Linked DNA regions of Homo sapiens: region 2 is linked to region 1. The links come from fine-mapping of genetic effects on gene expression. A gene starts in region 1. The other region holds a variant in brackets. All regions are shown on one strand. Distances are from middle to middle.

Region 1 (15,517 bases):
GCATCACAAGCATGAATTTTAAGTAGTAATGCCTTCTTCTAACATGTTTTCACTTAGGAGATGGGACTTTTTAGAGGTTCTGGGAAAGAAAATAGCTGCTATAAAGATGTAGCCACCAGAGTAGCTGTTGGTCTTGTTTCCACTCTCGAGTCCTGCCATTCTGAGTTGTTGTTTTTGTTGTTGTTGTTACTGTTTTGCAAATGGCTAAGTCCATTAGGACAATATTAAACATTTTTATGTAAATAATAATAAATATTGAAAAAGCATATATTTACTTTTGATAATGTGATTGACAAACATACAAATCAGGTCCTTTGTAAGAAAAGTTTTTAGCACCAAAACTAACCCAAAGTAACTAGATTAAATGTGTGCCATAAAACTTTATTTTTTTTTCCTCCCCAGGTTCACCTCCATTTCTCAATGTGAAAGCTTTACATCATTAAGATGAGTTGAATATAGATTTCAATTAATGTTCTTCCTAAGTGATAAGGATGTAGACTTATAAGCAGGACAAGACTAATCATCTTCTTAGCATTTTACTGCGGGTCCCATCGGTAAGGTCTAGAGAGCTGTTCCATATCTCAGTTACTTGGCACTTTCTGACTCTCTCTTTCTTTCTGATTCAGACTCCAGGGTATTCAAAACTGATAAAGTTGGTCATGAAGCCTTTGCACACGGGGAATTTAGAGGCGTTTTATTTAAAGTGGGATTTGCTACTCATATGCCTCTTTCTTATCCCATTTTAATAATGATCGACCCTGGAAATCTTGCTACAGCTCCAACTTTAATAACTTCTGTTTAAGTGGGATTAAACCAGATTTAGAAAAAAACCTTTTGAGAAGTGTTTAGTTATGTACTTTGCATTTAAACTAACATATTACCTAACTTTTATTAATCTGCTTTTCACATTAATCTTACATAAATATAACTCTTCTTTTATTGCCTAAAAGTGGTGAACACTATTCAACATGATTAAAGGAGGTCACTTTATGTATTTATTTTTTATTTTATTTATTTATTTATTTAATTTTTTTTTTTTTTGAGACGGAGTTTCGCTCTTGTTGCCCAGGCTGGAGTGCAGTGGCGCAATCTCGGCTCACCACAACCTCCGCCTCCCAGGTTCAAGTGATTCTCCTGCCTCAGCCTCCCCAGTAGCTGGGACTACAGGCATGAGCCACCACGCCCAGCTAATTTTGTATTTTTAGTAGAGACGGGGTTTCTCCATGTTGGTCAGGCTGGTCTCAAACTCCTGACCTCAGGTGATCCACCCGCCTCAGCCTCCCAAAGTGCTGAGATTACAGGCGTGAGCCACCACGCCCGGCCGGTCACTTTAAAAAAATAGAATTCTGAACCCCTTTATATACTTGCTGTGTCAAGCATATAAAAAGAAATCGTTATCAAGCTTCTGGTGAGCAGAGAATAAATCAGTGTTTCACAAACTATGGATTGGAGACAGCCCTGAAACTCGGCATTCATATTCTATTAGACATCTTCAGTAGCAGAGATTTATATAGAAGTCGTGAAATAATCACCACCTTCCCGTGTGGGAAAAGAGGGCGTTGGCTTTGATTGATACGCAGTGTCCTGTGTAGATGCATCAGTGAGAACGCTTTCCCTGCTAGCTGCCGATTTGACTTGACACTTTAGGGACAAATTGGAGCCCTCATAAGGCCGCTGTAATTACTTGTGAAACAGATTCTGTCTTAGTTCATATAGCAACAAGGCAGGTCTATTTGGAGAACAGTGTGTCCCTTCCTTCCTAAACTGGTCCTTTGATTTGCAGTTCGACACTCAGGCCAGTGGCCTATTTTTAAAAACAAATGATACGCATTAATAGTATCCAGATCAGGTCAGGTTTAAAGAACACCCAATATGTGTGAAAAGGCAAGTCTCCAAAACTGATTAATTAGGGGGGAATTGTGTGCATATCCAAATAACTTAATATACAAATCCTTTTAAAAAGAGTTTCCCCAGATTTATAAAATTAGACTACGTACAGTTCTCAGGAGCACTTCCGTAGAGATTAAGCCTCATGACTCTTGGGTGAGATTGCCACATTTTATTAAGTAAATATTGACATGCTAAGAAGTGGTCGTTTTTTGTGCAGTAGAAAAAGAGAGTGAGATTTACTAACTGCTCTTTCTTTCTTTTTACCAGACTTAGAAATGGCTGTTGCGTATTGGAAATTAGTGTTATCTGGAAGGTTTAAATTTTTAGATCTCTGGAACACATTCTTAATGGTAAGTGTCCTCCTGCATCTCGCTGTGTGCCCACTGTGGAGGGAAGTCGGTAGGTATGAGGCTGCATGTAATCATCCACCTCAGGTCTCACACGTGGAGGTTTTCAGCAGATGAACATCCCACACAAAGATCCGCAGGTCCAGACAGGTTGCCACTTGGCTCTGTCACCTTGCCGGAGACTGCAGGGCTGAGCTGGGGCCACTCCGGGGCCTCCTCAGAACGTGGCTTCTTGGCAGTCACGGGAAGCTCCTCTCAGGCTGGGGTTCCTGGAGACTCTGCAACCCCAGCAGCCCCCGTGTTGTCTCCTCTGAGGACCTAGACGGTAATTCTGTCTTTCCACTGAGAACTCCGAATCCTCGACATGGTGCCAGCGCCACACTTCTGTGGACTGGTTTGGGCTCCGGAACTGCGGATTGTATGTGGCGGTGCCCAGCCTCTGTGTGTGTCTGTGGTCTGAAGCCATTTCTAAGTGTGTCTCACCATGCTCAGGAGGAAAAGAGGCCTTTGTGGACCCTCTGGAGAGACACTTTGCTGGTGCGGGGCAAGGCTGCGTCATGCCAGCCCGTCTTGCTGGCAGCAGGTGCAGCTGTGGGTTTTTGGAAGTGAGTGGCCACAAGCCCGGTAATGGCAGAGATGCCCAGACCTCTTGCTGTTCTGTCCATGAAAGTGAAAGAAGTGGTCTTCCACCGCCCAACCCACGGCCGGGCCAGGACCCGCACTGCCTCCCTTCACCTGACACCAGGTGACACAGACTTTGCCACTTAGAGTCCTGTGGCCTTGGGCACGTCACTTCCGCTTCCTTGCCTGGGAATGGTACCCAGAGAGTGTGGCAGGTGGAGGGCGGAGCTGTCTGTGGAAGGTGACGTCACTCAGTCCTGTGGGTTTGCCATGGAGAGACGTCTTTGCAGCTATGTGTTTCATTACATCATGTGCTGTATTACTTCTCTCGAAATATCCAGAGGTCAGTAATGCTGTGCCCACAGCCCCCTTACGCCTTACCTGGGGTCAAACCTAAGTCACAGATGTTTCCCAGAGAACCTCACGCTCTTGTGCGTGGAGAAGGGGATGAAGGCGCTCACAGTGTCATTGTAACGGCAGAATACTGGAAAAGCCAGTGACCATCCACAGGAGAACGGACTAAAAAATCAGAATATTGGTGCGATGGAGCACGGCTTTGGAGCCACGCAAAGGAACGCACATTCACACACGTCAGCCCGCATACGTTTCAGACATTATGCTGAGTGGGAAAAAAACAAGTTGCAGAAAACTATGTGTAATTTGATAGCAGTTAATGTTTTAAAATGTAAGACAAGCTTATGAGCTGTTCGTGAATATATATATACATGCAGCTAATGGGCAGGTAACGAGATTAAAATGCTGCCCTTCTATGTGACAAAACAGGAGTTTATAATTGTAATATTTAAAATGTTTTGTTCTTAAATAAATCTGCTTTCTATATTTGGACATTAGCGTTGTTGTAGCACTTAACATTTATACAGAACGCTATTACTTTTAACAATTTTATTGTACTTGTTCCTAATCAAATTAATGAACATTAATTGAAGATCGCTAGGCCACTAGAATATATGAGAGTTAAGCTCTGTATTTTAAACCTGGTGGGTTTTTTTTTTCTCTCATATATTAGGAACATCACAAAAGATCAATTCCAAGGGACACCTGGAACCTCCTGCTGGACTTTGGAAACATGATTGCGGATGATATGTCTAACTACGATGAAGAAGGTACCGGAAGTTGTGCTTCAGATGATTGACCGAAATGCTTACACCTGAGAACGTTAACTTCTCCTGCCTCTAGAGTGGTGACCCCGTCACTGAGATGGGCGTGGTCATAATACTACCCCCTTCCTTATTATTTTCTGTAAATCATACAAAAGAAAAATAGGGTTTTATATTTAGTGTAAATCAAGAAGACAGTCCTCTAAGCCAAAGCATTTCAGAATTGGATGTGAAGAGTTAGAGACCCCCATGGTGGAGCCATGGAGTTAGGTATTGGGAAACCACCACTCCCAGATTCTCAGTCCCGCATGATGCCTTAGGTCAGTTCCACACTGCACTCTTCAGGCTGACTCGGAGATTCCAGCTCCTGTCTTCTTGCATAAATATATCTCCACATACTTGTCTCCCCCCGTGTTTAGGACTCTGCGTTGGAGGGCCTTTGGAGCCTGCTGTGTGCTGGGCACGCTGCCACCTTAGAGAGGGATGGTCTCTGGGTGGAAGGCCTCCCCTCTAGGCTCCCACCCACTTTGCTTCCTCCCTGCCCCCTCGGCGGGCAGTGATCTGTTCTGGGCCCTGGCGCCGTGCCTTTAACGGGTGGTTTACGTGTCTGTCTGCCTGTTTTAGCTTCTGCTTCTCTTTGTGTCCTCCACACTTTGCACCGTCCCTAGATCAGGGGCACCCAGTAAATGCTTGTCAAATGAAAGAAGGGATCACTGAATCTCATTGACAGAAGCGCGGCTTCCAGGATTGAGGCAGCAGTGCAGGAGCTCAGAGGGCACTCAGGGCTGCCGGGGTGGGGAAGGGAGCAATGGGGTGGTCCCACTTGGGAAGAGCCGCAGGAGGGAGCACCCCCTGCTGGCAAGAATACCAATGACCTGAGGAACATGCCTCCTGCTCCGCGGGGGTCCATTTAGCTCCCTTCCTGAGCAGCTGGTGTGACTGCCTGGGGCACTCACCGAGCATCCGGGGCCACTGTGAGCCCACAGCCCCCTAGACATGCCAGCACACACACACCAGGGCTCCCGACCTGGCCGTGCTAGGGCGAAAGAACTGGGTAACTTGGGCTGGTTCATTCTGTGAAACACAAATGGTGTGGACCTCAAGTCATTTGGGTTCTTGAAGTGTAAATGTTGGATTGATGTGTGACTCAGTGCTTTGGAGATAAAAACGGTGCTCTAACGGGTTTTCTGTTTGCTTGCTTTCCTTTAGGAGCTTGGCCCGTTCTTATAGATGATTTTGTAGAATATGCACGGCCAGTAGTCACAGGTGGAAAACGCAGCCTTTTCTAGGCAGCAAGTTAAGCAGGAGTAAGATTATGAAATGATTTGTATCCTGCAAGGAGATTGCAGTCAGTTCCTGGGTGCATTGTCGCTGATTCCAGAAGTCATTCTTGACCAGCCATGAAACCAGAGGCGCCATCCCATTCTGCCGGAGGACAGCCAGCGGCTGCTTTGTGGACACCGCAGGAAGTTCCTCGGGACACGGCTGCTTTGGGATGTTTGGAGATTTGTCATCATAGCTTTTGCGTTAGGAAATTTCTGCATGATTTTTTAATATTTACAAAATACTAAGGTAGAGCCATAGCGCCGCCTGTGGGACCGCAGAGCATGCTGCGTAGCTCGCGCGTCAGGCGAACCAGCGTCCGGCAGCGTCCCGCCGAATGACGTTGCGGTGGCACTGGCAACACGGCATGTGTCCTCTGCAGGGCGCTGCGTTTTTATACACGTCAAAGCTGTTAAGAATGTGCCCTAAGGGAGAGGATCTTGTCGTAGAGTCTAATGTTTTTTAAAATTGGTGCCAGCAATTCACGATTTATATTTTTTGAATTACCAAATATCTAGATTTACCAGCTCTATTTTTGTTTTCATTTTCTCTAGACATTCATCTGAAAATCATTTTATGGTTCTCAATCCCCATGTAGCTTTGCATAGCAACGGCACACGTGGCACGATTCCAGCAGAGTTTATCTCACACCGTTTATATATCACTGGGCCTCTCTTACTTAAATATTATTTGACCTGCCTGAGAAGCTTCATAAAGTATGTTTTTTTAAAATATATTTTAATTACATTTAAAAAGACATTTTTCCATGAAAAACATTTATTTTATGAGTGATGAATTATAGATTTTAAAATCAAGGCCGGGCGTGGTGGCTCACACCTGTAATCCCAGCATTTTGGGAGGCCGAGGCAGGTGGATCACCTGAGGTCAGGAGTTTGAGACCAGCCTGGCCAACATGGTGAAACCCTGTCTCTACTAAAAATACAAAAATTAGCCGGGCATGGTGGCACATGCCTGTAATCCCAGCTACTCAGGAGGCTGAGGCAGGAGATTCGCTTGAACTCAGGAGACGGAGGTTACAGTGAGTCGAGATCGCGCCACTGCACTCCAGCCTGGACGACAGAGTGAGATTCTGTCTCAAAATAAATACATACATACATACAATAAAACCGAATGAGCTGGTTCTTTCCATCCTCTTGTGGTACCCGTAGTGCCCAGCATCCAGACCTTTGTGCCCCTGTGCACATTTGGAAGCTAAAATGTACATCGTTGTCTGAAAAAACCCAACCCCAAAACCTTCATCTGATTGGTGAGCTGAAGTCTGTCCTTGCACCATGTTATCATCTGTTTCTCGTGTCCGCCTGGTTGAGGAGGACCCACGAGTGCTGCCGAGGTGTGGAGGGCTGGTATTGAGTTGTGGACATCACTGTTGACCCTACCTCACGTGCCGAGACTCTCATGTCACAGGCGTGCCTTGCTGCCCCCCTGCAGCACTGTGCAGGACGTGGACCAGCTGGAGCTGCTGCCCAGCACAGAGGAGAGTCGCCGCAGATGACCTAGCTGCGGTGTGAGAGAGCATGGCCCAGACAAGCAGCTGGGTTGGCTTCTGAGAACAGGACTTACCCTGGGCTTCAGGAACATCTGATGGCTGAGGTTAGTGTGCTTGGAGGCTGCAGGACGAACTGTCGATGTTTCTTAGCAGAGATGGTCACAGAGGGCAGCAGGGACAGGACTGGAAGGGACCTGCAGCCTGCAGACCCCGCCTGGCCCCCGCTGGCTTCTGGCTGGTCCAGTGATGGGCAAGTGACAGACCTTCCCCAGGCTCTGCTTCCAGAACTCTAATGGGAAACTGGGCCTGTCTACCTTTAGAAGTCTTCGATTCTCAGAGAGCATTTGTCTAATACAATAAAAACTGGCATTAATACAAACCTCAAAAACGTGAGCGTATCTTCCAGGCTTCATGGATTCTTGACATGTAATTGTTTTGTTCAGAAAAGTTTATAGAATTCACATAATTCTGTATAAACTATGGAGATCCACAGTACTTTTTTGTTTTTGAGATTTAAAGTTCTAAGGGATTGTCAATAGATATCAAAATATTAATCATTGGACAAAGGCTTTTCCAAAAATTGTGGGTTTTTTTCTTCTGTTGTATCCATTTGAGTCCTGCATGCTGTGAAATGCTGAGAACAGAAGCATTAAATTGGTTTTTCTCGGGCGTGGTTTCCTTTCGATTCTCCTCAGCTGCAGGGATGTCTGCCTATAGGTGTCAGCATCCACGTCATTGTCCCAGGATGAGAGAACAGCCCCCAGCTAGCAACCAGCGGGCAAGCCCCTGCCCCCGTGTGTGGCCCGCCAGCCCTGGCCAGGTAACCAGGTCCTCAGGTACCTTCTGTCATTGCGTTGCCTCTCAGCGGTGCACCGTGCACCTGATGGGGTGGCTCATGTGAGGAATGAGAGATCTCACAATAGGCAGGATTTACGGGAGTGTGTCGGGGCAGGAGGTCATGTGTGCCAGCACAAACTGCTGGAAACCGTCCCTTATCGGAGGCAAACGGCCAAGCACGGGGGTCTGAGGATCATGTGCTACCTGCCGATTCACGGTGCACCTGCCAGCGTTCCGGAATCAACAACGCCAGCTCCTCTCAGTGACATTGTACATGTCATTGTGTTATTTTCGCTTGAAGTTTATATCCATTTTAGACCTCAGGCTTCTTGGGGCCAAGAATAAACTTTCTTCTGATCCTTGTTGCTGTGTCCACAGTTTCAGGTACAAAGTAGGGGCTCTGCAAATATTTGTTGGATAAACGAGCTAACCTTATCCCGTCCTGTTTGCTGAGGGAGCCAGCTAGTGCTCTTGGCAAAGGTTTCCGCCGCCTGCGAACTGAAGCGCTCAGCGAGCGGGCTGTGTTAATCCCCTCAGCAGCACACGCTTCGGCCCCACAGTGCAGTTGTGCCTAAAACAGGTGAGAGTTTGAACGAAGGGCCGCCCCTCCTGTCTGTCTTGTTTGGATAGGGACCCTGCGTGCATGCTGTTTTTTGTTTTGGAGTTTTGTTTGTTTGTTTGTTTGTTTCTGAGACAGAGTTTTGCTCTTGTTGCCCAGGCTGGAGTGCAATGGCGTGATCTCGGCTCACTGCAACCTCTGCCTCCTAGGTTCAAGTGATCCTCCTATCTCAGCCTCCCAAGTAGCTGGGATTACAGGTGCCCACCACCATGCCCGGCTAATTTTTGTATTTTTAGTAGAGACGGGGTTTCATCATATTGGTCAGGCTGGCCTCAAAATCCTGAGCTCAGGGGATCCGCCCGCCTCGGCCTCCCAAAGTGCTGGGATTACAGCCATGAGCCACCGCGCCCGGCCTGCATGCTGGTTTTGAAGTTTGTTTCTGAATCTCAGGATCATGCTAGCTGGCATGACTGTGCTGATGGCTGCCTCCACCAGCAGACAGTGGAGGGTGAGGTGAACTCACTGCTTGAGATCCTCCGTTTTAACAAGTGCTGATATAACGCCAGGCGGTTAAATGCTTCCTACTGTCTCGCTGTACACTACGAGAGTTTTTATCAGACGCATTTCTTCAGTCCAGGTGTAACTCTTTGCTTCCCCTGGGTCTGATGGAAACCAGGCCCCGAGGAAGGAGACGGGAGAGACACAGCCCTGCTGGGCTCCCGGCCTCTGCGGAGAACTGTCCTGGGGTGGGGTCGGGAGATGGACTGTTTTCCTAATTTATTTCAAACCAGGAACCCTGGCTGTGTGCATTCTGCCTCACCCCCCGTCTCCATATTTTTTAATATTCTTTTCATGAGCTAGCAGGGATGATGTAAATACACTGAGCTGACCGAGGGCCGGATGGGAGGTTCTAGTGAAGCCTGCGGTTTGCTGACGACTTTCCCCCTCAGTGCAGTCCAATTATTTGGGAGCCGTTAAACACCGCATGCTGAGAAGACACCGTCATTGTTCACACAGGAGCTAGATAGACTTTGTTCCCTCTACACTGCATTTTTTAAAAGTTTTCTATCAAAAACACATTTCATAATCGAAAAGTTTTCTAAATGATAAAACCGCATGTCACAGATTAATCTCAACATTATGTTGAGTGAAGGAAGCCAGACACCGAAGGCCACACATTGTATTTGAAATGTCCAGGAAAGGCAGAACTGTAGAGACAGCAGATGGGTTGTTGCCCGAGGGGTGAGGGCACGCCCCGCAGCGGGCGGCAGTGACAGGCACGCCTGCACACATCTGCTCCCGCATCACCCCACGCCACACACGGGGAAGTGTGCGCACTCCTTCCAGGGACAGCGAGAGGAGCCCCTGCTCTGTCAACGCTCTGAATGTGCTGCGGCTGCCGGCAGAAGCTAGCAGGCTCCTCTGCTGAGGAGCTGGTGCCTGTCCAGACGCAGAAGAAAACTGACACCTCCCACGTGGGGGACAGAAAGGTCCTCTCATTGGTGCCACCTGCAGAGATAGACAAGGAGCGCCTGGCCATCAGAGGACGCTCCTGACAGTGACACAGTGACCACTATAAAAGTCAGGCGGGCTGAGGAGGAGACAAAGGCCAGGACGCTCCGCAGCTGTTGGGGAAGAGGAGCTGCCTCCTGGGATGGAGAAATTTAAGGCTGCGATGTTGCTGGGGAGCGTCGGCGATGCTCTTGGCTACAGAAATGTCTGCAAGGAGAACAGCACTGTAGGCATGAAGATCCAGGAGGAGCTGCAACGTTCCGGGGGCCTGGACCACCTCGTACTCTCGCCAGGAGAATGGCCCGTGAGTGACAACACCATCATGCACATCGCAACCGCCGAGGCCCTCACCACAGGTAGGCTGGGCCCACCGCGCTCCGGTGTGCGGGCTGGAGGGAACACTGGCTGCTCGAGTTCTCCCAGTAAGCCTCCGAGAGCTTTGAAGGCAGTGCGGTCCTTCAGCGGATGGTGTTACCTGATACCGCTGCTAAAAGTGGCAATTTAATCTGAGTGTCCCTCAAATTTGATATGCGGCAGATCACGTTTCTCCTGTGGTTTCTCTGAGGGTGACAGTATTACTTTACTTTGCAGTTATTAAGATTCAGTTTTTAAACGTGACTTTTCACTTGTATTTGTAAAGCGTTAACTAGGCCTAGCACCTTCTGTTTCTAATAGAGTTAAAGCCAGTGAAGCCTCTCTCGGCCGTGCTGGTGGGAGTAGGGTGAGGGCTCACTTCTCGCTGCAGAGATTAAGCCTTCTTGTTCTGAATTCATTACAAAGGGATGTAAAATAAGCCAGTTTGAAATGTGAACCCATTAATACTGTTTGGGGATTAGTTCTAAATTCCAATGAATTAAAGTTAGAATATCATCTCCCAAAATGGTTCAGCTTGGAGAGTTGCCCATACACAAATGTGTTCTAAGAAAATGACATAAACTTGATTGGACGAGATTGGAGACAAAGCTTCTTAAAATACCTTTAAGTAGCAAATTGATTTTAGGATCAAGCTTTTGCATGAATTTCAGGGAAATGGCAGGTGCACAGACATGCAGTCCAGCTTTCCTACGAGGCATTTGCTCTTCAAAACCCCGTGGGTGCTGTTTATCATGGCAGAATTAAAATCTGAGGGCTGCAGCTAAGTCAATGAAATCTCACTTATGCGTTCACTCCACCATTCTGTTCATCTGCCATGGACGTGCCCAGTTTAGTTCTGTGCTCACAGCAGAGGAATGCCATCGAGCCTGTGGCCGGTCCCTAAATAACGGGAGAGCTGAAGCGCCGGCGATAAGATAAGGCTCCCGGCTTGCTGGAGACGGGGAGGCGTCCGACTGTTCACAGCCTTGGCGTCCAGGAGCTCCTGCTTCTGGTTTTCCAGGCGGCCACTCGTGTGCCCTTAGGACCAGCAACCCCATGCTTGTGCCCCGCAGCCCAGAACAGGTGCACCCCACACACAGACACCTGTGGGACACAGCTCCGGCTTGTTTTCACCGTAGACGGCTGGAGCTCACTCTTGAGTTTGGCTTCCTCTGGGCGTCTGATGCCGTGTGTGCGCTCATACCAGCTCTGCATGTCCCATTTCTGGTAGCACTTGGTGGGCGTTTTGTAAATGGCAGCGTCCATGGCTGTGGGTCTGGTCCTGCCAGGCCCGCAGGGAGGGCAGCGGCACAGGACACTCCAAAAGTGCACCGACGGAGATCGGCCCAACAGGACACGAAATTCACACAGTTAAAAGGGTTACGGACGTTTAGGGCACTGTTTTTTGTTTGTTTTTTGAGACGGAGTCTTTCTCCATCGCCCAGGCTGGAGTGCAGTGGCGTGATCTCAGCTCACTGCAACCTCCACCTCCCAGGTTCAAGTGATTCTCCTGCCTCAGCCTCCTGAGTAGCTGGGGCTACAGGTGCCCACCACCACGCCCGGCTGATTTTTGTATTTTTAGTAGAGACGGGGTTTCACCACGTTGTCCAGGCTGGTCTCGAACTCCTGACCTCAAGTGATCCACCCACCTCAGCTTCCCAAAGTGCTGGGATGACAGGCGTGAGCCACCATGGGGCGCTATTCTTAAGGAGGAAGTAAGTTTGCTCTAAGCTCTCAGGGTCCTCAGCTGTGGACTGGAAGGGAGGGTTCACTGTGCTGCTGCAGCGTCTAGTTTGTGGGTCATGAGAAAATACGCATCCAAGATCACCCCTGGAATTGCTTACTGTGGGCGGCAAGCCACCCAGGCACTGAGGCAAGAGACAGAGGACACGAGCTGTTCCAGTATAATAAAACAAGAATAGTTATACCAGATATAGATCTTAGATATGATTATATATGAATATCATTAATCATTAGTTTGTAGCAATTACTTTTTATTCCAATATTATGATAATCCTCGCTCTATAATCATAGCCTAGGAAAAACCAGGCCATACAGAGATAGGAGCTGAGGGGACATAGTGAGGTGTGACCAGAAGACAAGAGTGCGAGCCTTCTGTTATGCCCGGACAGGGCCACCAGATGGCTCCTTGGTCTAGCTGTGACGCCAGCGTCTGGGAAGACGCCCGTTACCAGGCGGATCGTGGTCCAGCAGTAGCAAAAGGTGGCAAGGAACAACACCTGCTACTTAGCAGACCAGGAAGGGGGGGGGGGTCTCCCTTTCCCCAGGGGAGTTTAGAGAAGACTGCTCTTCCACCTCTTGTGGAGGGCCTGACATGAGTCAGGCTCGCCCGCAGTTATCCGGAGGCCTAACCGTCTCCCTGTGATGCTGTGCTTCAGTGGTCACACTCCTAGTCTGCCTTCATGTTCCATCCTGTACACCTGGCTCTGCCTTCTAGATAGCAGTAGTAAATTAGTGAAAAATTAGTACTATCAGTACTAATAGTCCCTGATATGCAGAAATAATGGCATAAGCTGTCTTTCTCTCTGTCTCCTCTCCCTCTCTGCCTCGGCTGCCAGGCAGGGAAGGGCCCCCTGTCCAGTGGACACGTGACCCACATGACCTTACCTACCATTGGAGGTGACTCGCATTCTTTACCCTGCCCCTTCTGCCTTGTATCCAATAAATAACAGTGCAGCCAGACATTCGGGGCCACTACCGGTCTCCGTGCATTGGTAGTAGTGGTCCCCCGGGCCCAGCTGCCTTTTCTCTTATCTCTTGTCTTGTGTCTTTATTTCTACACTCTCTCGTCACTGCACACAGGGAGAGACCCACCGACCCTGTGGGGCTGGTCCCTACAGCTTACCCCTCTAGAAACCAAAGCAAGCAGATTTTTTTCAACTCACTAAAAATCAAAGTCGAAATTTCACTTAAGTTTATCTTTGTTCTTTAAATAACAAATTGTAGCCTATGGAAGGGGGTCTTTAAGCTGTGTTAACAATGGTGAGGGCTGGGCACAGTGGCTCACGTCTGCAATCCCAGCATTGTGGGAGGCCACGGTGGGCAGATTGCCTGAGCCCAGGAGTTCTAGATCAGCCTAGGAAACATAGCAAGACTCCATCTCTACAAAACGACAATGGTGAGTGCTGACTCCACAGCACTTCTGTACCAGGCATTGTTCCAGCTGCTTCACGCATGTTATCCTCCACACATGCTCCTCACATCACCGTGGAGGCTGATTTTATCACAATCTTACAGGAGAAAAAATTGACATACAGAGAGGTTCAGGCGCTTGCCCAGTGCCACACAGCCCAGCGAGTGGCAGAGCTTGGACGGGAACCAGAGAATCTGGCCCCTGTGCTCGTAAGCATCCTCCCTGACTGCTGAGATCACGGTGGCCTGCAGGTATCCTAACAATTGCAGTGTGCAGGGGCTCTTCAGCATGCTTTCCAAAGACAGGCAGACTTTTACAAATGGAACTACGTTTGGCAGCTTTAAGTAAGCTGCACTGAAAAGTCCTTCACCCCACGAGCCACGGGGCTGTGTGGTCTGGCAAACCCTGGCTCTGCTGCTAGAGTGAGCACAGGTCTGAGGGTCGGGGCAGCCTGTGTGGCTCCCTCCTTCCGGGTGAGCCTCTCTGAACCGGGCTGCCTCCTTCCGGGTGTGTCTCTCTGAACGGGGCTCCCTCCTTCCGGGTGAGCCTCTGAACAGGGCTGTCTCCTTCTGGGTGAGCCTCTCTGAACCGGGCTGCCTCCTTCCGGGTGTGTCTCTCTGAACGGGGCTCACTCCTTCCAGGTGTGTCTCTCTGAACAGGGCTGCCTCCTTCCGGGTGAGCCTCTCTGAACAGGGTCCCTCCTTCCGGGTGTGTCTCTCTGAACAGGGCTCCCTCCTTCCGGGTGAGCCTCTCTGACCGGGGCTCACTCCTTCCGGGTGTGTCTCTCTGAACAGGGTCCCTCCTTCCCGGTGAGCCTCTCTGACTGGGGCTGCCTCCTTCCGGGTGAGCCTCTCTGACTGGGGCTGCCTCCTTCCGGGTGAGCCTCTCTGACTGGGGCTGCCTCCTTCCGGGTGAGCCTCTCTGAACAGGGCACGAGAGCAGACTCTGAACCAGGAAGTAGCCGTGTCTAGCGCTCTACAAGACACATAGGAGAGGTGGCATCCATGGCCCTGAAACGACAAGCCCATGTTGCCAGCGCATTATCACCAAGTCACTTGGCAAGCGTTTAGCAGGTGTGTGTGTGTGCCAGGCCTGGGGAGGGGCGGCCTCGCACAGAGAGCTCGGCCATTGCTCGGGTATGCAGCTGGCCATTCCCAGCTCCCTACCCCCACTCCCTGGGAAAACTGGGGAAGTGGCTTCCCTCCCAGGGCCTTCCTCCCTCACAAGGTCACAGAGGATTAAACGGAGCAACCAGCAAAGTGTGAGGAAGCACTTAGGCCAGTGTGGGAAGTTGGTGCAGGCCCGTGTGGCCGAAGGCACATCTGACATGTCTCTGCCCTGAGGCTCACTCAGCCAACTTCAGGGCCCAGCAGGATGGCGGGAGGTGTCACCTGGCCACAGCCTCCAGGGCACAGGGCCAGCACCTTCTCAGCCTCTCCCGGGGCCCTGATAACTGGGAGTGGCACTTCAGCTCATGGCAGAAAACGTTTGGAAACAGTTGACATTTTGCTACAAGATCACTGGATGTTAGTATTTTGCCTTTTCTTTATTGAGACATGGGTTGGGAGACTCAGGCACCATTTTTTTTTTTTTTTTTTTTTTTTTTGGGACATAGTCTCACTCTTTTGCCCGGGCTGGAGTACAGTGGCGCGATCTCGGCTCACTGCAACCTCCACCTCCTGAGTTCAAGCGATTCTCCTGCCTCAGCCTCCTGAGAGGCTGGGCTAACTTTGTATTTTTAGTAGAGACGGGGGTTTCACTATGTTGCCCAGGCTGGTCTCGAACTCCTGACCTTATGATCTGCCCATCCCAGCCTCCCAAAGTGCTGGGATTACAGGTGTGAGCCACTGCACCCGGCCCCTCAGGCAGCTTTAGAAACTGATTTGTCTTTCAGGAGACCAGACAGGGAAGACAGGAGACAGGAGTGGAGTGTCCCAAAGGAAAGAGACCCGGGGAGAAGCCCAAGGGTAGCAGCTTTGAAAATCTGTTTCTCGCTTAAATTCTAACCTGAAAAGACAATGCTGTTTGTGCCATTTTGTTTTATGGCTTCTGTTTGCTTTGAAAAGGCTAAATTTCAGTTGAATACAGACATTTCATGTCTAATTCCAGAATAAAATGAATCCTTTTAGGGGACTCAGGAAGGGCTAGGCTTGTTAACCCAGGACTGAGTTGAGAAAGGCTGTTTGTGGATCCACTGTGCCGGTGACTGTGAGGGGCACACACTGGGTTTAGACACAGCCTGGACAAAGCCACGCAGCTGTACCCCCATCCAGGGGTTTCGGGTGCAGGCGAAGG
Region 2 (15,517 bases), 54 kb after region 1:
TGATCCCAGCCCTCCTCCCTCCTCTCTGCAGCCCCCTCTTTCCTCCCTCTCTGCAACCTCCCCTCCTCTCTGCAACCCGCTCCTCCCCTCCTTTCAGTAGCCCCATCTTTCCCTCCTCTCTGCAGCCCCCTCCTCCCTTCCTCTCTGCAGCCCCCTCCTCCCCTGCTCCTGGTGGGCACTGCCCACTGCAGTGCTGGTTCCTGCCCAGGAGCTTGTGAGGAAACTCTTTCTGCCTTCTCCGCCCACCCCAAGCCTGAGCGGTTTGCTGAATCTTCAGTCTCTGCTGTAGGGACCCAGGTCCCTGGGATCATGGCAGAATTTAAATATGCTGTTAATTTTATCTTTCATACTTAAAGGTAGAGACATACACAGTCCACACAGAGAATAGACACTTCTTTATATGTGCTTTTTTACCTACTGTACAAGCAAAGTATGTTTGTTAAAATTTTCTTTTAATATGTTGCATATGCAAAGTGGTTTTCCAAACGCTTTCACTAAACTGTTCAATGTCAACTCCTCAATGCCCTTAGGAGGAGCGTGTGTCAGAAGTTCCTGCCATTTAACAGGAAACAGTGACCCAGAAAAGCTTTGGCATCCCTGCCAACCCCGAATTAACAGCAGAGACAGCCCAGAAGCCACAGCTCCTGGCTCCTAATCTCTTTTTCTCCCTACCAGACTTTTGGGGCCCCTGAAAAGGTGGGATTGCCCCATGATAAATGTTCTATAGAGTCATCTTGGAGAAAAATGATGATGAAGTAGGTGATGATTCCTTTTTCTCTGCAGCCGGAAGAGCAGCAAGACCTGCAGTGACGTCATGTCTGTGGACGCCCAAACCCTGAAGAAGAAGATGGGCAAGCTGGCCTGTGACCCGGCCGCCCACTCCATCCTCAGCAGCCTGCTGCTCTACGTCACGGGCCGCGCAGACCGGCCCCCGGGGACAGAGGCCGGGGGGAGCAGGCCCAGCCACCAGCCCCAGACCCAGGAGGCCACCCAGCGGCCCACGCGCTTCCAGCTCCTGCAGGCCAAGTTCCTGGGCACTGGCCGGGAGCGCTACCTCAAGAGGACCAGGGAGGTGGGCCGGCTGATCTCCAAGGACAAGCAGGGGCCGGGTGGGGGCCTCGTGGGTGCCACCATCAACAAGCTCCTGGAGAAGACCAAGGAGCCGGCCCCAAAGCCCTGCCTCAGCGAGAAGCCCCGCTGGGGCCACCCGGCCGGGAAGAGCACCGTGAAAAACATCCTGAAGATATTCTTGGCCGCCGAGGAGAAGGAGGCGAAGGAGAAAGAAGCACGCGAGAAGCCCCCTGTGGAGCGGCCCAAAGCCGCCAGGGGCCTCTTGCCGAAGATCATGGGCAAGAGCTCGGTGCTGTCCAAGCTGCGGGAGAAGTTCGAGCAGAACAGCTGCCTGTGCTCCGAGGCCAGTGCGCTGAGGCTGCACACGCAGGAGCGGAAGAAGAGGAACCTGCAGAGGAAGAGGATGCACCGGCCGGAGGTGCGCGTGCTGCACACGGCCACCATGGCCAGCACCTGCGTCAAGATGCCCCCTGCCCGCTTTCTGGCCTGCACGGCTGAGCCCCTGCCGGCCCTCAGCATCGCCACCGTCGTCTGTGGCCCCAGGAGCTGGCTGTCCCACTGCACCAAAATCAGCCACTCGGAGGCAAGGCGTCCACCCAGAGGAGAAGCCAGCGTGCCCCCTAGTGCCAGGGAGACGGGGCCCAGTGGGAACAAAGCAGTGGGAAAGGGGCCCCTGGAGGAGGAGCCCCAAAGACAGCCAAGGCCCTCGAAGCCCGTGACACCCCAGGTGATGGCTCAGAGGGACGGCCACGCTGTCCCCTCGCTGGCCTTCTCTTGTGCTCCCTGCACAGGTGGAGTCCTTCCTGGCCTTGTGCCTGCATCATCCCCACTGGGACCGGCCAGCCCTTGGGGCACCGGATCAGCCGGAGGTGATGGGACTGCAGACCCCACCGCAGAGAGCACCGCAGGAGGCGTCCAGGAGGTGAGGGGAGCCAGGCTCACGTGGCCTCCTGGGCCCCCAGGCGAGTGTGCAGGGGAGGGCCCTGAAATCACCATGACTGTTTGCAGTTCAGAGGATGAAAGGGAAGGAGCAGGCTTCCCAGACCCAGGGAGAGACCCCCTCTTTGCCACCCAGAAGTATTTCCCAGAACAGAAGGTGCCGGAGCACATCCCACCCCTGAACGCTCCATCGGTCCAGGCTGCTCGGAGAACACAGCCTGCCACGGAGCCTCCACGGATAACTGTCCAAATTCCAGTTGTCCATGAAATGCCAGCCCCTCCCACCAGGCTGCAAAATATGTCAAGTGGTGAAAACAAACCTTGTATTTGTGGAGGAGAGAATGTGGTTGAAAATGCCCACACAGAATTTCCCACCGTGACTGAGAACAGAAGGGGTCACCGAGCCCCAGTGGAACTGAGCAAGCTTTCAGGGATGCAGGCGGGACTCAGCGCCTCTTCGCCGCAGGGGCCACGGGCAGCTCCGCGTCTGGCAGCAGCAAGAGGGGCTGTGGGCGCCGACCACAGTGTCCCAGAGACACTTCTGACACAGAGACTCCAGACAGATCCTGCTGGCGGGAAGGAAAACAAAGGCAGCTTTGAGAATTCACACGGTCCCAGGAATCCTGACGATATTTCAGGAGAGAGGACCTCTGAGCTCAGAGATGTGAAGCATCCGTTGCCGGAATCTAATGAAATATCAATGCAGAAGAAGGGCTCCGCAACAAATGATCCTGCAGCCTCACAAAACCTTCTGAGGGGAAACACCAGCCATGCCTCCAGCAGCCAGCAAGTGCCGTCCCCGACTGGGAGAAACCCAACAGGAGCCCCCACGTCACTGGCGGCATCATCCAAGGGGCGTACGGGGCCTGAGGGTGTCACCCCGATGGGCATGACAGTGCCCGGTGCGCTGGAGGAATGCAGAAGGCCGCTGCTAATAGAGTCTTCTCAGCCCCTGAAGGCTGCCGAGGAAATCACCAGCCATGATGTTCGCGAGAACCCACTGTCCTCATTAAATGAACCACCCAAACCAGGTATGAAAGCCTGTGGGGCGATGGCAGCTGCAGGGAGCGTTGCGAGCCGCGCCACGCCTGCACCAGCGCCAGGCAGCACCCAGAGCCCTGGAGACCGCACAGCGGGAGAGCCAGAGACGCTGGGCCAGTGGGGAAGCAGAGCCTTGTCCGAAAGCCACCCCAGAGGAGAGGCTCTCCCTCGAGACCCTCACAGCCACGGCCTCCTGGCCCCTGGGGGATCCTTGGAGCCCAAGAGTGGAGCAGCAGGGAGGAGCCTCCTGAGAGGCGTGGCCCTCGTCCAGCACCCAGAGGACATTGCGACCCTCGCCCGCCACCCGGAGGATGCTGCGGCCCTCGCCCGGCACCCAGAGGCGGCCCGATTATACATTTCAAACACATCAGCAGCCAGCAGACATACAGCAGCTGTAGGAGGCAGAAAGGATGTGGCTGTGGAAGGAAACCTTTTGGGTTTCAGCACAGAGTCTGGAATTCCTGCTTCTGATCATCCTAGGCCACAGGCAAGGAGCGTGGCAGAGTCCCCCAGCTATGGCCCTGGCCTCCCGCCGTCGCCTCCTGAGAACCCACAGGCAAAGGGCAGGGAGGGCGTCAGGTTTCCCCGTGGGGCGGAGCCTGACCATCTGCTTCCCGCAGTGCCTCCCGCGGAGGTGGACATGGGGTGGGTAGGTGGCACCCACCAGCGGGGCCCTCCCCATCTACAGGCACACCTGCCCCCTACTGCTGGTGACACACAGGCAAAGCTCCGGGCCAGTGTCCCCGAGCCTAGGACGCAGGCAGGTGAATCCCAGGAGCGTCCCCTGACACAGGCGGACCTGGGGAGGCAACAGAGTCACCAGGCACAGGAGGAGACCCCCCAGCCCGGGGATGCGGGGAAGAGGGTGGCGCCGTCGGGCTCGAAGGTTGTGCTGAACCCAGCAAAAGAGCCTCAGACATGGTGGGCACAGGATCTGGCCGGGGACAAAGGGATGGCCATTGGGGTTGGGGGCGCCTGCCAGCGCAGTGACCAAGGTCAGCAGCATCTGCAGGGACCCTGGGAGGAGCGGGGGCGGAGCACGGCGTGGGGAGAGGGCACCAGGGCTGCCAGGAACCCAGCTGTGCCTCCAGGGGAGCCCGAGGGGCCGGGAAGCCCGGCAGCCCAAGGACAGGCCCAGAAACAGGTTCAGGAATGGGACCGGGGACAGGTTCAGGGACACGCTCAAGAACAGGCCCAGTGGCAGACCCAGATAGAGGCCCAGGGGCAGGCACAGGAACAGGCTCAGGGTGGGACCCAGGGACACAGTCAGGGACAGGCCCAGAAACAGTTTCAGAATTGGGCCCAGGGACAGGCTCAGGGACACGCTCAAGAACAGGCCCAGTGGCAGACCCAGATAGAGGCCCAGGGGCAGGCACAGGAACCAGCTCAGGGTGGGGCCCAGGGACAGGTTCAGGGACAGGCCCAGAAATGGGCTCAGGGGCAGATTCAGGGACAGGCCCAGAAACAGGTTCAAGGAGAGGTTCAGAAATGGGCCCAGGAAGAGGCTCAGGGACAGGCCCAGTGGCAGACCCAGATAAAGGCCCAGAAATGGGCTCAGGAACAGACCCAGAAAGGGGCTCAGGAACGGGTTCAGGGTCAGGCCCAGAAAGGGGCTCAGGAACGGGCCCAGGAACAGGCTCAGGAGCAGACCCAGATAGAGGCTCAGGGTCAGGCCCAGAAGGGGGCTCAGGAACGGGCTCGGGAACAGGCCCAGAAAGGGGCTCAGGAACGGGCTCGGGAACAGGCCCAGAAAGGGGCTCAGGAACGGGCTCGGGAACAGGCCCAGAAAGGGGCTCAGGAGCGGGCTCGGGAACAGGCCCAGAAAGGGGCTCAGGAACGGGCTCGGGAACAGGCCCAGAAAGGGGCTCAGGAACGGGCTCGGGAACAGGCCCAGAAAGGGGCTCAGGAACGGGCTCAGGAACAGGGTCGGGAGCAGACCCACATAGAGGCTCAGGGTCAGGCCCAGAAAGGGGCTCAGGAATGGGCTCGGGATCGGGCTCGGGATCAGGGCTGGGAGCAGACCCAGATAGAGACTCAGAGGCAGACCCAGAAAGGGGCTCAGGAACGGGCTTGGGAACAGGGTCGGGAACAGGCCTTGACAAGTGGGATGGCGCCTCGGGCCTGGGAGCAGCCCATTAGTGGCATAGCTGAGGGAGTGGATGCTGCTGGCAGGAGTGGGGGGTCCAGAAGCCCAGCCCCCAGGGATGGTGGACAGTCAGGGGGCAGTGGCCTGGGGGAGCCCAGCGCCGGGTACCCACCCCCAGGAAGCCGCCCCCTCAGGGGCAAGAGCATTGCCACCTCTCCCCTGGGGCTGGGAAAGAGCCCAACTGAGCCCAAGCCTGAGGCTGGGGGCTGCGGGACTCCCCAGGCCCCGGCCCAGGAGGGGTCCCCAGACCACCCTGGGGCTGAGAGGGCCCTGCAGGACAGGATGGAGGCATCGGAGCCCGAGCGTCGCGGGAGGTCCAGGCACCTGGCCAAGTACAAAGCCCAGAGCTTCCGTGACCAGAGGGCCTTCGATTTGTCCTTCAGACCAATGAGCGTCAGGGCCAGCGACACGTCTGAGCTCCCAAAGTGAGGCCCCGAGTACACACCGTGGCTCGCCCAGCACTGTGACATCCGCCCATTGAGGGACTTCAGGCATTTTCCTGCCTCCAAATGCGTCTTGGAGCATCCCCTACAGAGACGCCTGTTTCCATAATTTTCTTTCCCTTCTTCACAAGCTGACCTTGGGAGGATTGAGCTACATGTGGGTCGGGTTCCTGTCACCCCACAGAGCCACGAGGCCATGGGGGTGGGAGGTGCGGGCCTGTGGCCTCACCAGGCCCTCGGGATTCTTTGTGTCTTCACTCGGGGGCGCCGGCTCACCCCTCTCTCACACAGCCTGCAGCGTGGAGCTCACACCTCCCGCAGTGGCACGGTGTGTGCGTCCCCTTCGATCTGCAGGATGCTGGCACTTTGGGACACCTCCCCAGCTCTCACAGGGCCACCTCCCACTGCTCCCTGCCCACACCCCACCATGCCCTGCTCTGACGTGGCCGCATGGCACCCACCATCCATGGGCCCAAAGTGATGCACACCGCCCCACCCCCATGACTCGAAAGAAAGGGCAGAGCTTCCTCCAGCCTCAGACGCCCAGGTGGGTGCCGGGTGCTGTGTGGCTGCTGGGCCATGTGGTGGTCACCAGAGGGTGTGGGGACGCTGGGATCCCAGGCCGAAACCAGCTCATCCGGAGGAAGAGGCCTCAGGAAATGCCCACGTTAAGTTCTGAGAAAGGGACAGTGCAGAGCCGTGGGAAGCCAGGATCCCAGGGAGGCTTCGTCTGGAAACTGGGTGCTGGGAGAACGAACGGGAGCCTGCCCGCCCTTCCCTGCAGTCCCTGTGGGTGGTGCCACTGGTGCCGGTGACCTGAGAGCCTCGCTGTCTGTCCTCCGTCCTCCCGAACAGCATAGAAGTGTTTCCTGCCCTGGCCCGAGACGGCCCACGACTCCGGCCCTGTTCAGGTACTGAGGTAATGCATGTTCAGGCTGGAATATTTGAATGCTGTCTAGAGGCACAAGAAGGAAATCAAAGCCACCTGTGGTCACATTGCCTCGAGATGGTTTTTGTTGCTACTCTGGACTATTTTTTAGGCTCTTCCTCCATGCACCTATTTTAAAGCACATTCTTCCCCATGATGGAGCCATGCACCTCCGTGTCGCGATCCATCGTCCCAGGCCACTCGGTGGCCTCTGAAACCCGGACCCGTGAGGCCACACGGCTGCCTGAGTGGCCCCGGAGCAGCTGGATTTTCAGCGTGAACCGATGCAGCCTGTCGCCCTACAGCCCCGCACCCTTGTTTTTGGTGGTGCCCTCCCTGTGGAAAGTTAATTCCTGCTTTTTGAAGGTGTCTTGGCATCTTCTGCCTTTGCTACTGAGCGGTTTCCTGAAACAGCCCTAAGCGTTCGCAAAGGCGCTTTGGTGCCTGCTGCGAGCACCTGTTTTCTGACTCGGATGTTCCTTTAGAGGAAGGTGTTTTCCAGTGTCGGCCCTGAGAGGGCGTTCAGCAGGCGCGTCCTACCCACGCGGGGCTGAGGTCTCTCCTTCCAGGGAAGGTCCATCCCGGCAGACGCCAGTGGCTTTGGCTCTGCAGCGCCAAGGAGGCGGCGTGGCGTCATGCTCCGGGGAGCGCACAGGTTTCCTTCCAGTCGAACAATTAACTTCAGATCCAGCAGGTTTGACCCACCCTCACCTGCTGGGACATGCGAGTGCTGGTGTCTGGAAGGAGGGCCGGGCTGTGCTGAGCTCTGGGGGGCCGGTCCCCACAGCTCCCCCGACAGGGCCCCCGGGGCCTCCTCTATAAATCAGGGGTCCGTGCTCCCAGCCCGCTTCGAGGGGTTTCTGCTTGGCGTGTGGGTTCTAAGTGCGAGCTGCTGTGTGTGGAGGCTCCTGAGCACCGGGTGCCCCTCGCGCGTGTGGGTCCCGGGGCAGCCCAGCTGCACACAGGATGGTCCGGGGGTGCGGGTGGGGGCAGAGCTGAGCATGGCGTGTACTTGGCCACAGAAGTCTTGCTGTGGTGCCGCTGGACCCCTGCTAGGAGGACAGGGTCCCCTCTCTCACGAAGCACACGGACCTCCAGAGTCCCTGCCCCTGCAGTCCTGGGAGCCTGCAGTTGGGGCTGGAGTTGGCCTCTCGGAGCCACCCAAACGGAGAGGCCCATGAGAGGGGAGCTCAGGGGTCCAGCAGAGGCTGACAGAGTGGCCTCTTTGTCCTGTTGGCGGCCCCTGCTCATGCCTGGGGCGTCCTCCCTGGAGCTGGGGGAGCTCAGGGACCCCCAGGTCTGTGTGGCTGCCCCTGCCACTCCAGGCACAGCGGCACGGCCCTCACTCTTTACCTATTTGGAATTGGAGGCAATGAGTGGCAAGAACATGATGACAGACACGGGAGGTAAAAATATGTTCACTGGCTGTTCCCTTTATAAATAAGAAGTGGTGGGACTTGCGCTGCTATTTTTAAATAGACCAGAGAGTACACTGGAGAAGGCATTGAGTGGTTTTATTTTAAGTGGTGGAAAAAATGATGAGAATCTCCTCCAGATGACAGCTCCGGAAGTGTCGTGCCTGAACCCCTCTCACAGTCTGGCGGGCGCAGAGTCTGTGAGCGGCCAGGAGGCCACCTGCTCGACTGGCCCGTCCTCTCCATGTGCCAGATGCAGCCCAGCATGACACTGCCCTCAGCTCAAAAACAGCACAGCTACTCTGTGTGCAGGAAAAAACTGCCAGTGACTTCACCAGGATTTGAGAACGGTCCGTACGTTCACACTAAGCTGAGACAGCGCAGGTTAGAAGATAGCGCGGGGAAGTATTCACACTTCAGATACGACCATCACGGCCACATGGCTAAGGCCCACACCCTCCCGGGGTGAAATAACTACAGCAGAAGAATGGGGCGCTAACCACCTCCACGGGCATTTTAAATAAAACCCAAAGTTGTTTTGTTTTTTTAAAAAAAAAAAAAAAGAAAGAAAGAAAG[T/C]GGCCGGGCACGGTGGCTCATGCCTGTAATCCCAGCACTTTGGGAGGCCGAGGCAGACAGATCACGAGGTCAGGAGATCAAGACCATCCTGGCTAACACAGTGAAACCCTGTCTCTACTAAAAATACAAAAATTAGCCGGGCGTGGTGGTGGGTGCCTGTAGTCCCAGCTACTCGGGAGCCTGAGACAGGAGAATGGCGTGAACCCGGGAGGTGGAGCTTGCAGTGAGCCGAGATTGCGCCACTGCACTCCAGCCTGGGTGACAGAGCGAGACTCCGTCAAAAAAAAAAAAAAAAAGAAGAAAAGAAAAGAAAAGAAAACAGGATATTTATTTTAGCTTCTTAGTTAACATCATTAATTTTGTGTAGTTGAGCGACTCGTTGACTGCCTCCTCCCTGCAGTTTTTTACGGTGCCTCCGGCTGTCGACAGGCCCACTGTGAGCCGCAGGTCTGTGGGTGCAAGTGACAACAGCCGGGCGGGAGGCGGTGCACTCAGGCGGCAGGAAGGTCCCGAGACGGCGACGAGAATGTGGTCATGTTCAGGACACTCGCTCAGGGAGGGTCGTTGTCTGGGATTTTACACGCTCAGCACCACCTCCTTATTCTGTTCTCAGGGTATCTCTGCTGTTGGAGTTACGGTCTTTCGGTTGTGTATTAGGCTACAGCTATTTATTAAATTTGTTCTTGTTCATATTCTTCTTTGTATATAAACAACCCTAAAATGGGTTAGTCAGAAAAAATTACTAAATGTCATTTGTTGTATTCTCTCTGTATTTTTACTAACATCATTCAGCTGGAAATAATTTCAAAAAGAAATAAAATACCTTTCCCATTACAAATCTCTTCCTTGCATTGTTGAAGCAGCCGCATAAATGAAGTAGGACTCAGGCCTGGGGCGAGGGGCAGAGCCCCCATCGGGTGAATGTGGCCAGCCTGGAGCAGTGATCCTGGGCAGGAGGGAGGGTCTGGGGCAAGGCCCCAAGTGGGAGGAGAACTCCTTAGGATGTGCTTAGAGAGACAAGGCCATGCACTCCCCAGACCCTCTCTTGGTCCAGTCAAGACTGTGCCGGCCTCGGAGCAAGACCCAGGGAGCTGGACTTCGGCCACTGCACCTGGGCCGCGGGGGGCCAAAGGGCTGGGGTGTCCTCTGGGACACGGAGGGAGACTGGACAGAAGGGAGGGAAGGAGTATGGGTGCAACGGGCCCAGCAGGCCTGTGAGACACCCTCTGCCCTCCACTACTCTGTATGCAGGAGAACTTTGTAAGTGACTTTTCATGAGGATTTAACAACGGGTGGTTTAAGCTCACGCCAGACCTAGCTGGGAATGCCTGCATTCCAAACCCCTGCTGTGCCCGTGGGTGGCGCGGGTTCTTGGCATCTTGTGAGGAGGAAAGCTTGTTCCACTGAAACGAGCTGATGCCTCGTGTCTGAGAGCACTGGCCCGGCAGCCGAGGCTTTGGGATGGTGCAGGCACCTCTTGTCCTGAAAGAAAACCCCTGTCAATTAAGCTATGACACAGGCTTTCATTAGAACTTTTATTTTATTTTATTTCATTTATTTATTTTGAGACGGAGTCTCGCTCTGCCACCCAGGCTGGAGTGCAGTGGCGTGATCTCGGCTCACTGCAAGCTCTGCCTCCCGGGTTCACGCCACTGTCCTGCCTCAGCCTCCTCAGTAGCTGGGACTACAGGCGCCCGCCAAGACGCCCGGCTAATTTTTTGTATTTTTAGTAGAGACAGGGTTTCACCACGTTATCCAGGATGGTCTCGATCTCCTGACCTCGTGATCCGCCTGCCTCGGCCTCCCAAAGTGCTGGGATTACAGGCGTGAGCCTCTGCGACCGGCTAGAACTTTTAAAAGCACTTATTGAGGGCGTCTGTGAGACTGGTGTACATAGAAGTCTGATCAAACCCCATTCTTGGGATATTGTTATAAGCTTGGGGTAGACAAATGTTTCCCTGAACAGAAGAAAAAGCCCCAACCACAAAAGGAAGTGCCGGGACATTTGTCTGTTTGAGCGTCGGTGCATTTGCTGAATCTTTATGGCCGCCATGGATTTTTGACAGGAATGGATGTCACGTAGCCCCCAAAGCCCAGGACTGAGCAGCTGAGCAGTGCACGCCGTTTCTCTGACAGCGAGAGGACTGGCCTGGCTCAGGTCCACAACCCCAGGCGGTGTCTGGGAAGCCACTCGAAGGCACAGGAGCCTACTAGAAGCCCCATCTGTGCACACCCCAAACTCGTGAAAGTGCCGAGGCATCTTCTCCTAGAAGAACAAAGGAGGCCAAGCGGGGAGTGAAGGCAACAGTGTCTACAGTGGTCCGTTTCCAAGACAAAGTGCCTTGAATCGGCTTAAGTCAGCAAACTACAGAAGAAACAGGAGGTCCGAGGCCCCTGCCTGGATCGCCAGTGCCTGCTTGCCGGCCTCCCCTTCTCCCTCCCTTCCCCCCGGCCCTTAGGTGCTCTCACCTGAACTAAAGAAGTTTAGTCTAAGATAACAGTTTACTAGCCTGCAAAATAGCTGGCTTTGTCTGTTCTTATCAGCCTGCCCAGCTACTTAGGTCATAAGTCAAATACTTGAAGAGCCCCTGGGCTGACTGGGATTGCAATGCATTGTGGGCTGCAACAAAATGCAACAGGACACCCCTAAAAAAAACACCTACAGCCCCTGCCCAACAACCAATAGGTGACGTCCCAGAAGACTGTGACCCCAGAGTACTCAGCCTGTGAGGAACCCGGGGAGACACCTGTGCACTAGGGGATAAATTATTTGTTGAAACTGTGCTGGCTGTGGCTGCCCATCAGACACCCGATCTTGCAAGACCATCATCAACAGTCTCACTTTCAGCCAGGTGCAGTGGCTCATGCCTGTAATCCCAGCACTTTGGGAGGCTGAGGCAGGCAGATCACAAGGTCAGGAGTTCAAGACCAGCCTGACCAACATGGTGAAACCCCGTCTCTACTAAAAATAAAAAAATTAACTGAGTGTGGTGGTGTGCACCTGTAATCCCAGCTACTCAGGAGGCTGAGGCAGGAGAACTGCTTGGACCCGGGAAGCAGAGGTTGCAGTGAGCCGAGATTACGCCACTGCACTCCAGCCGGGTGACAGAGCGAGACTCTGTCTCAAAAAAAAAAAAGAAAGAAAGAAAGTCTCCCTTTCACTCTCCTCCGGGTCTCCGAGTCCTTCTTCTGGGTTTGGACAGATGAGTTTGTTTCTCACCACTTGAGACCAGGAGTTCCAGACCAGCCTGGGCAACATAGTGAGACCCCGTCTCTATTTAAAAATGAAAGTAAAATAAAAAATAAAAGAACAAAAGACCACAGGTCATGTTGTATTGAAGAGCGGAGAAAGAGCTGTTGAATTCTCTGGATGGCTGTTTCCTTACGGCCTGTACCACTGGAAGTCATGTCTTAATCCCCAACTGGAAGAAGGCGCTCAACCCACCAGCAAATCTGCACGTAGGGAAGAATTTTCCAAATCTTGAAGAAATAAGAACCCAAAAAAAGCACCAAATAAGTTACAGATTTCCATTGCTCAATCAATAATGATGATGATAAAATAATCAAGAAGCCGGGTGCGGTGGCAGCACCTGTGGTCCCAGCTACTCAGGAGGCTGAGGTGGGGGGATCACGTAAGCCTCGGAGTTTGAGGCCAGCCTAGAAACATAGCAAGATCTTGTATCTTAAAAAAAAATGAATAAAATGTTAAAAAATAAAACAAAATAAGAAACTGATGAAATTCTTGGACTTTGATAACGGCAGGAAGCCGCACACATACAGGAAGAACAAAGTCCAGAAAGAGCTGACGGTGGACGCCCAAGAGAAGAGGCGGCTTCTGCGAGCTCTGTGTCGTTAGGAAGGGAACTCGGCTTCATTTCAAATTCCAAAGGGGCTCAAACATATGAATAAGACCCCAGTCTTTCATGGGAGCCCCAAAAGTGGGGCTATTTTTCTACGTTTTGACAGCTCCCCACAACATGAATCCTGTCTTCTCTCTGCACGGCAGTCCCACATCCCACATCCCCAGCCTTCCTTGCTGCTGGGACGCATGCAGCTCTGCCAGGGAGACGCAACCTCCCCAGGCCGGCAGGGCACAGCAGGTTCTGGGCCCACGGTGAGGACGAGCCGGTGATATGGAGTCTCCTGGGTGTGCAGAGAAAGATGTTTCCAGGGAAGCTGAGAGAAGGAAGCTCATTAGCCAGTGCAGAGCTGGGCTTGGAGGCCTTTCCTCTAGTCCTGCAAGGAGCTGGGAGCTGTCACACTGCTCACCATGTCCCTTTCTGCTCAAATTCCCCAGGATGGATTCTGCCCCCTGCACTCAAGAAAACACAGGGGGCCGGGCGCGGTGGCTCACGCCTGTTATCCCAGCACTTTGGGAGGCCAAGAAAGGCGGATCACGAGGTCAGGAGATAGAGACCATCCTGGCTAACACGGTGAAACCCCGTCTCTACTAAAAATACAAAAAAATTAGCCGGGCGTGGTGGTGGGTGCCTGTGGTTCCGGCTACTCGGGAGGCTGAGGCAGGAGAATGGCGTGAACCTGGTAGGCGGAGCTTGCAGTGAGCCGAGATTGTGCCACTGCACTCCAGCCTGGACGACAGAGCAAGACTCCGTCTCAAAAAAAAAAAAAAAAAAAAAAAAAGAACACACAGGGGCGCCCCCATCAAAACCCACAGCAGACGTGCTGTATCGGACCACATACTGGAGCACACGGGGCTGTCCCCATCAACATCCACGGTGGACGTGCCGTATCGGACCACATACTGCGTGCGTGGTGGTCAAAGACATGAAGTTGAACTCTCATGGGTCTATCAAGTTGAGAACCAAAACCCCCAATTTTTAAAAGGAATCGGTAACACTCACTACCTCTGAGGATGTACGGAGACAGTCATTCCTGATGGGACCAAACATTGGCCCTTCCTTTTTATAAAGCAATTTGGCAATAATGTCAAGAACCTTTAGAAGGGGTGGCTCCTCAGCCCAGCAATTCCAGCTTTGAGAAACTGTATTTAGGAAAAGCAATCTGTCCAGCGTGGTACTACTCAAGATACAGCCATAAGTGACACAAATGTCCACCAATTAAGAGATTAGTTGGCCAGGCGCGGTGGCTCACGCCTGTAATCCCAGCACTTTGGGAGGCCGAGGCGGGCGGATCACGAAGTCAGGAGTTCAAGACCAGCCTGGCCAACACAGTGAAACCCCGTGTCTACTAAAAATACAAAAAATTAGCTGGGCGTGGTGGCGGGCACCTGTAATCCCAGCTACTAGGGAGGCTGAGGCAGGAGAATCGCTTGAACCCAGGAGGCGGAGGTTGCGGTGAGACGAGATCACACCATTGCACTCCAGCCTGGGCAACATTGCAAGACTCCCTCTCAAAAAAAAAAAAGAGATTAGTTAAATAAAGTGTGGTGTCTTATTCAGTGAAATAGCAGTCATTTAAAATTAGCTGAGGAAGAACTTTGTGAAATGGAAAATATTGTACCATTTAATGTTTAAAATCCAATATAAGGCCGGGCGCAGTGGCTCATGCCTGTAATCCCAGCACTTTGGGAGGCCAAGGAGGGTGGATCACCTGAGGTCAGGAGTTCGAGATCAGCCCGGCCAACATGGGGAAACCCCATCTCTACTAAAAATACAGAAATTAGCTGGACATGGTGGCGGCGGACGCCTGTAATCCCAGCTACTCAGGAGGCTGAGGCAGGAGAATCGCTTGAACCCAGGAGGCAGAGGTTACAGTGAGCCGAGATGGCGCCATTGCACTCCAGCCTGGGCAACAAGAGTGAAGCTACACCTCAAAAAGAAAAAAAAAATCCAGTATAAAATAGTAGATTCAAATATGTAAATACGTGTGAAGGGGGCAAAGAAAGAGAAACGCGAAAAAAGGTGAGCAGTGGTTATCCACGAACACCCGATGTGTAGGTGTGTTTTCCCGTCGTTATCTGTCACTGCTTTCTGCGTTAATTTAAATGCACTTGCATCACTTTCAGGATCAGAAAATAAAGGCCTATGTGTGACCCTGGGGCGCTGGCGGGGGCTGGACGGAGGCCCAATGCCCCTGTTGCCCATTGTCTCCAGGCTTCTCCAGGACTCGGCTTCCCGCCTCTCCTTTGGGGACCGCACGAGTCACTGGGGGAGGCTCCGCGGGCAGCAGGTCTCTGGGAGGGGTTGTCGCCCCCTCGGTGCGCAGGGGAGCGACGGGTCCCTCCTGCACCTGCAGGGACAGGCCTCGGGCTGCACCGTCCCGCGCCCGCCTACCCCGCGCCCGCCTCGCCGGACGCCTCCTGCCTGAGTCCGCCAGGGGGCGCTGCCGGCCTCCCGGGCGGCGGCTGCTGCAAGAGGAAGCCCCGGCCCGCGAGCTGCTGCCACATCCGGACGCCGCCGGGAGCCGCCGGGAGCCGCCGGGGTGGGCGGGAGTCGGGGCGGCGCGCAGGTTCCCGGCCCCCTAAGGGACGGTTGCCTTCCCCAGAGCCGGGGACACAGGCGTACGTGCGGGGACCTCGGCGCTGGCCTCCGGGCTTCTGGAGCCCCTCCCTGGTGCGGAGCGGGGACGGTGACCTCCTCGTGGATTCTGGGAGGGGCAGCCTTGGCATCAGGACCTGGAAGCCGGAGAGGCTGCAGGGCTTCCAGCCATGGCCTTGCCACCGGAGGTCACGTAGTGTTTCCACATTTCCTTAGTGTGTACATGTGTGGGTCCCTGTGTTGTGGAGGGCTGTGTCTGCTTGGTGTGTGTGCACACGCGTGTGTGCATGGGTGGGTCCCTGTGTTGTGTAGGGGCCGTGTCTGCTTGGTGTGTGTGCACACGCGTGTGTGCATGGGTGGGTCCCTGTGTTGTGGAGGGCTGTGTCTGGGCAGGCTGTGTACACACCCATGTGCATGTGTGATGCGCACTGGGGCACTTGTCTGGGTAGTAGAGGTGGAGGCCTGTGTGGCCATATGTGCAACTGTGTGTCCGGGTGCGT

Evidence for each region. PIP is the estimated chance that this variant, and not a neighbour inherited with it, causes the effect.
Region 2: its variant is fine-mapped to the expression of ADPRHL1 in monocytes after LPS (Quach 2016, PIP 0.95).

The regions. Positions count from the first base shown.
Region 1 is chr13:113,447,777-113,463,293 of GRCh38, reverse strand. ADPRHL1 (ADP-ribosylhydrolase like 1) reads left to right here and starts at 9,806. Exons shown (of 8, transcript NM_001394807.1): 1 at 9,806-10,070. The coding sequence starts at 9,857. DCUN1D2 (defective in cullin neddylation 1 domain containing 2) reads left to right here. Exons shown (of 7, transcript NM_001014283.2): 5 at 2,158-2,240; 6 at 3,886-3,982; 7 at 5,186-7,475. The coding sequence ends at 5,265. RefSeq lists enhancers at 6,346-7,276, 11,273-11,774, 13,776-14,135.
Region 2 is chr13:113,393,487-113,409,003 of GRCh38, reverse strand. ADPRHL1 (ADP-ribosylhydrolase like 1) reads left to right here. Exons shown (of 8, transcript NM_001394807.1): 8 at 784-9,393. The coding sequence ends at 5,626. Among named protein-coding and RNA genes, the nearest start is that of GRTP1, 37 kb to the right of the region's middle. RefSeq lists enhancers at 1,027-1,712, 2,830-3,624, 15,000-15,517 and silencers at 10,676-10,970, 14,613-14,722, 14,733-15,082. The variant T/C (reference allele first, on the strand shown) is at 8,560.